2 separate regions of the Homo sapiens genome follow, and region 1 is linked to region 2. The links come from fine-mapping of genetic effects on gene expression. A gene starts in region 2. The other region holds a variant in brackets. All regions are shown on one strand. Distances are from middle to middle.

Region 1 (5,371 bases), 95 kb before region 2:
ATTCTCATGCCTCAGCCTCCTAAGTAGCTGGGACTACAAGTGCGCACCACCATGCCTGGCTAATTTTTGTATTTTTAGTAGAGACAGGGTTTTGCCATGTTGGCCAGGCTGGTCTTGAACTCCTGACCTCAAGTGATGCACCTGCCTTGGCCTCTTAAAGTGCTGAGATAACAGGCATGAGCCACCACGCTCAGCCCAAACAAAAAATCTTGAAAACAGCCAGAAAGAAATAGCACCTTACCCATAGGGGGAAGACAATTTTTTTTTTTTTTTTTTTTTGAGACGGAGTTTTGCTCTTGTCACCCAGACTGGAGTGCAGTGGCATGATCTCGGCTCACTGCAACCTCCACCTCCTGGGTTCAAGCTATTCTCCTGCCTCAGCCTCCCAAGGAGTTGGGATTACAGGTGCCCACCACCACACCTGGCTAATTTTTGTATTTTTAGTAGCGACAGGGTTTCACTATGTTGGCCAGGCTGGTCTCGAACTCCTGACCTCAGGTGATCCACCCGCCTCGACCTCCCAAAGTGCTAGGATTACAGGCGTGACCCACCATGCCCGGCCAACAATTTTTGAGTGAAAGTTGTATTTCTTTCTCATCAGAAACCATGAAGGCCAGAAGGAAGTGGCACCTATATTTCAAATGCTGAAAGAGAAGAGTTGTCAACCTAGAAATCTGTATCTAACAAAAATATCCTTCTAGAATTAAGGGAAAATCAAGACATTCACAGATGAACGAAAACTACAAGAATTTGTTGCTGGAAGACCTACCTAAAAGAATAACTTAAAGAAATTTGGTCTAAACAGAGAGGAAATGATAAAAGAAGGAATCTTGGAACATCAGGAAGGGAAGAGAACAAAATGATCAAGGCAGTGTACCACAGAATTATATACTTTAAAATGGTTTTATCTCAAAAGTTGCCAAAAAAATAAAAATAAAAAACCACCCAGTGTATATCCACATTATAGATTGTATTATAAAAGCAATTTCTGCTCTCAGGTCTGTATCACTCCAAAGCCAAAGAGTTTTCACTCATTAAGTCAGTAATCCTTGTTGAATGTCTAGTAAATGCCAGTCACTGTGCTAGATGAAGGGATAGTCATGATCTTTGCCTTTGAGGATCTCATAGACTTGAAAACTCCAGGGAAAGCCAGCTAGGAAATGTTTGAACCGAAACACATTGCTTCCTTTTTCCTTCTGAGTCGTGAATTTCTTATCATCCTGGGGCTGACTTGAGAGCCAGCTAGGAAATGTTTGGAGCAATAATTTAGATGTCCATTACACGCCTATTAGAATGGCTAAAATTCAGAAGACTGACAACACCAAATGCTGGTGAGGATATGGAGCAACAGGAACTCTGATTTATTGCCGGTGGGAATGCAAAAAGGTACAGTCACTTTGGAAGACAGTTTGGCATTTCCTTACAAAACTAAATATAGCCTTACCATAAGATCCAGCAATTTCGCTTTTTGGTATTTACCCAAAGAATTAAAAACTTATGTCCACACAAAAACCTGCATATGGATATTTATAATTACCAAAACTTAGAAGCAACCAAGATGTCTTTCAGTAAGTGAATGGATGCTATTTAGGGATAAAAAGAAAAGAGCTGTCAAGCCACAAAAAGCCATGGAAGCTCCAAGATTCTGATGTCTGTACTGAGTGGACAAAGAAACTATTCATTTGGAGAGGGAACACTGAGGAGAGTCAGATTGGATGTGTGTGAAGTTCACTTTAGACAGTGAGTTTGAAATGACCGTGAGACACCCCAGTGGAGCTGAGGCGGCAGTGGGTTAGATACATAAGTCTAGGGTTGCGAGGATTAGTCTTGTCTAGAAGTAAACATTTGAGCATTCCCTTGGTATGAAGGGGGTAATTAAAACCAAGGCTGTGGGTAAGATTATCTGGATATATATTGTTACTTATTTATTTCAAAATCTTCCTTTGAATACAAGGATAGGTACCTTTACACCAGACATCCA[A/G]TGAAGCTGTCTTGAGGTTCTTCTTGTTTTTTATAGTCTTCCAGGAAAGCTCGCAATTGATTCAGCCTGACTTAAAATGTTTTTAAGAGTCGTGCTCTATGACACCAAGGTTTAGACAGTTACTTATTTTAACTACTTAAGACAATCCAAAGTTCTTTCCTGAGAGAAATGTTGACTCTGTGTATAGATCCCATTCTACTGGCCAACACCTGTGCTGGTGTGTTGATCTTCTGACTGAGATAGACTTCAGATTCACGTACTCAAGTGTACACAAGTGAAAGAGAACTGTGTCACTTCAAATCTGGGGTTTAAACCATGTGACTTTAACTCAATTCATAGCACAAACACTTGGCACCTTTAAAAAAAAAACCTTTAATAAGGGAAAATTGGAGATCCAAGGAACATGTTTTAATTGAGGAAATATGTATCAACCAGCAATTAGAAATACCTCCATGAGTTTTCATTCATTGTCATGGCAATATTGATGATGTTCACTATTAGTAACTTTTTTATAGCTTAGTTAGAATAAGTTCTCATTTCCAATCTGTAACTTGGATTCACAATGTTATAGAAAAATGCCTTGAATTCTAGTGTTGTTGTCTTAAACAATTGAGTAAAATAGAAGGAATGAGTATTTGTGTTGTATTTAGCTACTTTTTGTATATTGTACTTACTAATGTTCCTTTAGTTCTTGTGGTAGTATTTTTGCATTTTATACCTATTATTCTAGGAACCCTCATGAGATGTTGGATTTTCAGAAGAGGAAAGGACATCTATTTTATCTCTGTATCAATGAACATCTTAACAGGGAAGAAGAATAAAAATTTGAAAACCTAGAGGAACTTATTTTCTCTTCCGCAGGGTCTATGTACAGAGATGAAATACAAATGGTTGTGGGGATGTGGATAGCACCATCCTTTCCTGAATTTGGAGCTGTCCCACACCTCTGCCTGTCATGTCAGCCAGGGGCTTCACTGTGAAAGCTCTGGACTAAGTATTAATGACAGTCAAAACCCAAACACCTTGCTTCCTTTTTCCTTCTGAATCATGATTGCCCTAGCATCCCTGGGCTAACTGAGTATCCAACAGCACCCTCACAATATAGCCAAGGTTTAAACCACACACACACACACACACACACACACACACACACACCACACGCACACACGCACACACGCATGCACGCACGCACACGCACCAAAAGATACCTTTGGAAAAACAGTTAAAGATCATCTTTTCCCCTGTGTCTTTAAAAAATAATAAATCTGTTTTGTAGAAGAAAATTTATTTCTGGCCAGGTGCAGTGGTGCACACCTGTAATCTCAGCACTTTGGGAGGCCAAGGCGAGCAGATAACCTGAGGTCGGGAGTTTGAGACCAGCCTGGCCAACATGGCAAAACTCTGTATCTACTAAAAATACAAAAAAAAAAAAAAATTAGCTGGGTGTGATGGCATGTGCCTGTACTCCCAGCTGCTGGGGGTGCTGAGGCAGGAGAATCACTTGAACCCAGGAGGTGGAGGTTGCAATGATCTGAGATTGCGCCACTGCACTCCATCCTACATGACAGAGTAAGACTCTGTCTCAAAAAAAAAAAAAGAAAATTTATTTCCATTGACTCTATACTTTTTGTTTATCTACTAGTACATGCCTAAGTTATTGCCCCTTTTTATTTTTATTTTTTTCTGACATCCAGGTAGCCCAGTGTGTCTCACCAAAGGGACCTCTTGCTTGTTCGAGAACATACTTTTTTGGAGCTACTCATGTTCCTTACTTGGGTAAGTCCCTATAAGTTGTCATCTCATCAGCTTATCTAATGAATAGTCTGTCCCATGAACTAGAAGTTGACATACAATTCACTACTTTGCTTGGAAGCTCAGGTTACCCAATTTGTGGGCCTCCAGCTCCCTCTCTGATTACTTCTGGATAGTTGATATGTCTAACACGTTTCTCACAGAATGTGTTTCAAGAGGAAGATGATTGGTGCAGCCTACATTAAGTCTAACCATGTGTATAACCCTTTGCTAGGTGTCACAGGGGAGGCCAAGATGAATAAGACCTAGTTTAAGAAAGCAGGAGGTAGGGACCAGGAATGGCGGCTCACGCCTGTAATCCCAGCACTTTGGGAGGCCCAGGCAGGCAGATCACTTAAGGTCAGGAGTTTGAGACCAGCCTGGCCAACATGGCAAAACCCCATCTCTACTAAAAATACAAAAATTAGCCAGGCGTGCTGGTGCACACCTGTAGTCCTAGCTACTCAGGAGGCTGAGACACCATAATCGCTTGAACTTGGGAGGTGGAGGTTGCAGTGAGCCAAGATTGAGCCACTGCACTCTAGCCTGGGCAACAGAGTGAGACTCTGTCTTAACAACAACAACAAAAAAGCAAGAGGTGGGGTCCGCAGTGGGAATTTGGATGACTCAGCCAGGTGCCCACTGGACTGTTCTTGTGAGGAAAGTGAGAAGAGGCCATAATAAAAGGGTACTTAGGAGCAGGAGCATGCTGTGGGGCCATCCAGAAAGGCTAGGCTTGCTGGGGCTGCCCTGCTTACTGGGGTAACCAGAAGTTGCAGGTATCCAAAGACACATGGAAAAGAACCTATGGAATGAACGCAGGTCTCAGCATTGCTACACAGAGGAGAGTACGTCAGGAACCGTATTTTATTCTGGATGATGTTAAATAAGCCAGGAAACTCTGGAAAGAAGCATAACTTGGGTCAGGTAATTAAGGAGATAAAGCAAGAGGTAGAACTGAGCCTGTTTACTGATGTCTCGAAGTTTAAAAAATTAAAAATAAAAACAAAAACATTCCAGAACCTAAGATTCCACACATCTCTGGTATTTAGTGGTGTTGCTGAGTGGGTTGTAAAAGTGGAAAATGCGGGTGAAGGTTCAGGAGGCTATTGGGAATGGCCGGGTTCCACTGTTGTTGGTGTTTGTACTATATTTAACTTAAAAGAAAAAAGTAGGCTGGGCATGGTGGCTCACGCCTGTAATCCTAGCACTTTGGAAGCTGAGGTGGGTGGATCACTTGAGGTCAGGAGTTTGAGACCAGCCTGGCCAACATGGCAAAACCCCATCTCTACTGAAAACACAAAAATTAGCGGGGCATGGTGGCGTGCACCTGTAATCCCAGCTACTCAGGAGGCTGAGGCAGGAGAATCGCCTGAACCTGGGAGGCGGAGGTTGCAGTGAGCCGAGATTACGCCACTGCACTCCAGCCTGGGCGACAAAGCTAAACTGTGTCTCAAAAAAAAAAAAAAAAAAGTGTAGTTCTTGACAATGCCTTCCAGGTAAATTAAGCATTTCTAGCTTCCTTGTTAAGTGTTTGCATATCCTGTGCTCTTGTCACATTCTTAGTGGGCCTCTTTCACAGGTGGTGACAGCAAGCTG
Region 2 (5,371 bases):
GGGATTACAGGTGTGAGCCACCAAGCCCGGCCTAAAAATGAGATGTTATACATTTACTTCAGACCCCAGATTCTACAATCCACAGGCAAGATAAGTGGCATCAGGGGAGGACAGCAGAAAACTGTTAAGTGCGCCTTGTGGAACCCAGCGGTTACAGTTTCAAGTCCACAGCCCAGTAAAGTCTGAGACCCCAAGGGAGGGAATGAGAGGGAAAGTGGGTGCCTGCGTCTGGGTCCCTCAACCTGCCTGCCTATGTAAGGACCCAGTGGGGCACAGGACAGGAGATCTGGGGCACCAGTATTTGCCTTCAGCGTCAGACGATCTACACAGGACAGGAGGCAGGTGGGAGGACTGAAGGAAACAGCCTCTGAAACGGTCAGTCTGGAGGCAGCAGGCGTGTGGGCCTCAGGGGTTCCCTCCAGGAAGGCCGAGGGAACAGAACCGCAGGGGCAGAGCACAGGTGTAGCAGAGAAGGGCTCAGTGCCAGTTCCTTTGAGAGACGGTCAGGGAGCGGACAGAGGGGGCCCATAGCCGACTAGGGGCGGCTTGGTCATGGGCTCCTCTTTCCTCAGTGGGCTGAGGGGTTAGGTCCTTTGAGGAGCGCTGAGGAGACTGTGGTAAGGGGAAGCGCCCTCCATCCCAGAGGCTTTCCTGGAACAAGTGGGTTGGAAGGACCAGGTGTTTGGGAGCTGCTGGGAGCAGGTGCAGAAGCCAAGGCATTCCCAGATGGGGGAGACTGGGGGTGGCAAGGTGGCTTTTCAGGGATCCAGCCTGCATGCCACCTATGCAGCCATGCTCCGGGGGCGACATCCGCCTGTGTCCTTCAGCTCTTCCTCAGCCTCCACCCGCCACCCGGGAGTCAGTGCCTGGACTGGAGCTCTAGCTGGAGGGCGTCTAGGAAAGGTCCCAAGGGGTGCGCAGGATGACCTGGTGTCTCTCCAGAGTCACCCCTGCTAAAATACTATGTGGCCAGCCCCAAGTCAGTTGCAGGTCATGGTGTTGGGATCTTCCACAAGGCCTCCTGGAGTCGCGCTGGGGGAGGGTGGGGTACTCAGTCTGTCGCAGAGCCCCAGGCCATCCGTCGCCAAGAGGAGCACTCCAGCGCTTCCCTCCTAATGCGTTCTTATCTTGCCGGGAGGAGAACTGGGCCAGCCTTACTCACCCAATCTATGCATGAGGCTTCCCCAACGCGCCAGAAGCCCTTCCTTCGCAGAGGTGGGCTTGCCCCGGCCTGTCCCCGTTCCTCTACCATGGTTAGGGCACAGTGGCCGAGGACTCCGTCCCAGCGCGGCTGAGCCGGAAAGCGATGGCGGCCGGAGGGGTCGGGAGGTTGGTTAGCGCTTTACGGAGCTGCGTGTTCCGTTTCCAAGGGCTGTAGAGCCTTCTACTGGGAGCCACCGTGGATCAGGCCAGGGGTTCGTCAGCTGCATTTGCCGGATCGCATCGCAGCACGCGCACCCACACGCGCACACGCCCTACTCGCAGGAGACTAAGCGCCCCGAAAAGGCGCGTCCCCGGGCGGGTCGCAGCCGGTCCAGGAAAGGGGACAGGGCGCAAGGGCCATTTGGGGAAGGAAAAAGGGGGCGAACCATGACCTTGACCTCATAGAAGGCCGAGGACGTGAAGAGGCTGGCAGATAAGTTGGCGAGGCTCGCAGCGAAAACCCAAAGCAGCCGAGCTCGGAGAGCGCCGTCTCAGCGGGCGAGGGCGTAGCCCGGGGAATGCACGGAGGTCCGTCTAGTCAGTCGGGGCGCGCTTCCTGGAGGAGGAGGAGAAGGACTTGCGGCCGGAGCTACCGGGATAAATGCAGGAGGCGGGGCAGCCAGCGGGCGTGGCCCTGCGGAGGTCCCCGGTCGAAAGGAGGAGACAGGGGCCGGCCGCGTACTTAAAGCGGACGCGGGGGAAGCCCTCCCGGGGTCTGCCTCAGTCGCACAGCTCGGTGGGCTCGTGGCGCAGTCGAACGTTTTCCCAGAAGCTCCCCGGCCCCGTCCAGCCCCTAAACTCGCGACGCTGGGTCTGCTGGGTCCGGCGCGCACAGGCTCGAAGGAGCCGGGTCTACTCGGTTTGGCCCAGCAGCTGCGGGCGGCGGGGAGCAGCCCAGCCCGGCTGGAGCAGCCTCCCGCGGGTGAGGGCGCGGGGCGGGCGGCCGGGTCCCAGCCCTCGGCAGCTCTGCCTACCGCGCCCGGGCGCGGCGTCTGAGCGGCATTAGGACCCAGGCGCGGCGTGGGGGTGTGTCGCCGGCTCCCGCCGCCGGCCCGCCCGAGTCGCCGAGTTTGGGGTCCAGAAGCGCCGGAGCGCCGCGTGAGGAGCCCGGCCGTGAGTGCGCGAGTGTGCCATGGCCGCGGCCACCAGGCGCGTGTTCCATCTGCAGCCGTGCGGTGGGTGCCTGAACCCGGGGGCGCGGCGGGAAGGCCGCCCGGGTCTCCGCCACCGTCTCCCGTCGGGGACCCCGGGGAGAACGCGGATGCCGTCTGCCTGCGCGGGCCGGGGCCGGTGGGCGAGAGGGCTGCGGGATTCCCAGCCGCGGGGAGGAGGGCGCGGGTGCGGGAGGCCCGGGCGCGGCTTCGCGGCCACCGCGCGCTTGGTTTCATTAGGGCTCTGCTGTCGCCGTCTTGAATTTCTTACCAGGTTTGAACAGCTGATGCAGCGGGTCGAGGGCGGGGAGCTCGAAAGTGGGCAGGGCGGAGCTGTGGGGCTCCCAGCGCCCCGAGCGCCGAGCTTTTGGGAGCCTGGCGGGCCGCCGCCTCGGAAGGTCTCATTTTACCTTCCGCCCGGGCATCTTCCCGTCCGGCGCCGCGGTGGGAGCCCCGGAACCCCTGGAGTTTTGGGAGTCCCGGGACCCCTGACCGTGCCCTGCGCGGCCGCAGCGGTTTCTCCCTTGCTCTGACACGGGAGGGCCAGCCCTGGGTCCCCGCCAGGACCCAGGTTTGTACGACCCTTTACCTGCACGTGGGCCGCCGGGACGGAAGCGGAGTGTGCACCGGCCCAACCCTCCCAGACCCTCGTCGCCCACGGCCTGGGACGCGCCCCAGCGCCCCCGCCCCCCACTTCAGGATGCAGCCCCGGCTCCCGCCCCGCGCCTGCATTCACATCCTGCGCCCCGACCCCCGGGGTCTCCGAGTCTGGAGGCGCTTTCCTCTCGTGCACGCGGCCCCTCCTGTCGCTTCCTTCCTCCGACAGCGAGGCACAAACAGCCGGGACCATCCGGGGACCGGCCCAGGGAGGGCGCAGCCTCCCCCGACCCATGTGTCCCTCAGATACTCCTCCCACCCCCAATTGTTCTCCCTTTTGGACCAACGGCTCTGGCTTCCAGGCGGCCGGGACGCGGTCCCAGGACTGGAGACCGTTGCCTGTCGGCCCCCGTGTGACCCGGGGCGCGTGACGGGGGTCGGGGGAACTGCGCCTGCAATGGGCGTTTATGGCCCCCAGGACCGGTCTGAGAGTGAGAAGAGGGATGTGCAGAGAGATCCCCCGCCTTGGCATCCGAGGAGAGAGGGGGAGAGGCCCGCTCGGGCCCGGTCCCTTCCTCTCGCTGCAGCGGGGCAGGGTTTTCTCAGGAAAACCTGGATTAGCGAACATGGTACTGGTACTAACTCGGTGGGAAGACATCCCTGGAACGTCTCTCCTCCTCGCCTCTGGCCCGCCTGGGCAGCCCCTAGCAGATGGGCTAAGCAATTGAATTTCTGAGATTAAGGCTGGCTTCCCCTGCTATGGGGCCCCCTCCCGAGCACTGTCCCCTGCTTCCCTTTCTCCCTAGGGTGGCGTGGGTTGCATCCCTCGGAAGAGCGAAGGAATGAGCCAGGTCGGGGGGCGGGGAGACAGGTGCACACAGGAGGTCCAGGGCTTGGTCCATGGGGCTGGTGACCTTTCTGCTTCCCTTGCAGAAAACTCTCCCACCATGTCGCAGAATGGATACTTCGAGGATTCAAGTGAGTACCTCTCGGGGAGTGTGTGTGTGCAGAGAGAGCTTGTCGGGCAAAAGCCTCCAGGGTGCATAGCCTACCCACCAGAGTCCTGTGGCTTTGCTCGCCTATCTGGGCCACTCTAGTGCTGGAATGCTTTTGGCTTCCACTCTTCGGGAAGCTAGACATGGGCGGATCCCCCGTGGACCTGAGAGGGCAGGCTGCCCATTCTCCTGGGCTACTTGGACCAGGTGAACCCTCTGGGATTCTTACCCAAGGTTTTCTGTGACAATGGCCTGTTATCTGACTAGCCTTGGGCCAAGAATTCTGTGTGCCCCTGTCCCTCTGTCCTCACCCAGCCCTGGAGGGAATATCTGTCGTTGTCTCTTTAAAGAAATATAAGGCCTCTGTGCTGCAGTCCCTCGGGCACCTTCCTGCTGTCCCTGCTTGTACCAGTCCAGCTGTCTTCCTCCTCATGTCTCTGGGCTGGCTTCAGGCTGTGTCCTGTGCCTAGCCCCATGAGTGACCTGACCATTCGAGGGTTGTTTGTAGAGCAGTGCGTAGACACAGGGCTGATGTTCCCTTACCCAGAGCCCTCAGGACATGGGGCTCTGTGTGCTAGGCTGCTGGTGGGCAGGTTACGTATGGGGCTGGGACTAGGACTTGGCATTGCAGGAGCCCCCCAGGAACCTGGTAGTGTCAGCTGGGCAGGTCCTTAATCTAGGGGACCTGAGCACTAAGTCTAAGGTAGAGCTGAGGGCATCAGGGGAAGAATGGGGGAAGAACGGGGCTGTGTGAAGGGCAGTGGAGGGGACTAGTGGGTGCTGGTTGAGGGGCAGAGGGGAGGCTGGGACAAGTTCGGGCCAGGGGAACCAGACAGTTTAAACAAGGCAAGCCTGACCCGGGGAGGAAGGAGTTTATCATGAGCTCCAGAACCAAAGCAGTGAGGACGTCTTTTGTTTTGTTTTGTTTTGTTTTGTTTTGTTTTGAGTCTCGCTCTGTCGCCCAGGCTGGAGTGCAGTGGTGTGATCTCGGCTCACTGCAAGCTCTGCCTCCTGGGTTCACACCAGCCTCCTGCCTCAGCCTCCCGAGTAGCTGGGACTACAGGCGCCCGCCACCACACCCGGCTAATTTCTTTTTGTATTTTTAGTAGAGACAGGGTTTCACCATGTTAGCCATTGTTAGCCAGGATGGTCTCGATCTCCTGACCTCGTGATCCGCCTGCCTTGGCCTCCCAAAGGCAAGGATGTCTTTTGACCTAATATTTCTTCTCTGGGCTCTGGAGGTAGTGCAGGCCTGGGCCTGGGAGTCACCAGTCCCTGGGGACTTTGATGCAGGAGGCACTAGGGCTTCCTACCCAGAAGGGGCCCAGGCTAAACTCAGGACACTGGGGGAACAGGGCCTGGGATGTGCCAAGGAAACTGGCGGCGGGAGTAGAAGTGAGTCAGGGTGAGTCACTCCCTGGCAGG

Which allele goes with the higher level. Alleles are on the strand shown, and positions count from the first base shown. SD is a standard deviation of normalised expression in the study named.
For the expression in fibroblasts of the gene that starts at base 2,283 in region 2, G is the high allele of the variant in region 1 and A is the other (small effect, 0.32 SD a copy in GTEx).

The links. PIP is the estimated chance that this variant, and not a neighbour inherited with it, causes the effect.
Region 1: its variant is the best candidate, but not a certain one, in a credible set for the expression of SLC4A11 in fibroblasts (GTEx, PIP 0.53).

What each region holds. Positions count from the first base shown.
Region 1 is chr20:3,330,666-3,336,036 of GRCh38, reverse strand. DNAAF9 (dynein axonemal assembly factor 9) reads left to right here. Exons shown (of 37, transcript NM_001009984.3): 11 at 3,676-3,757; 12 at 5,355-5,371. Among named protein-coding and RNA genes, the nearest start is that of DNAAF9, 74 kb to the left of the region's middle. The variant A/G (reference allele first, on the strand shown) is at 1,982.
Region 2 is chr20:3,236,102-3,241,472 of GRCh38, reverse strand. SLC4A11 (solute carrier family 4 member 11) reads left to right here and starts at 2,283. Exons shown (of 20, transcript NM_001174089.2): 1 at 2,283-2,378; 2 at 3,885-3,929. The coding sequence starts at 2,336. RefSeq lists silencers at 2,034-2,193, 2,294-2,473.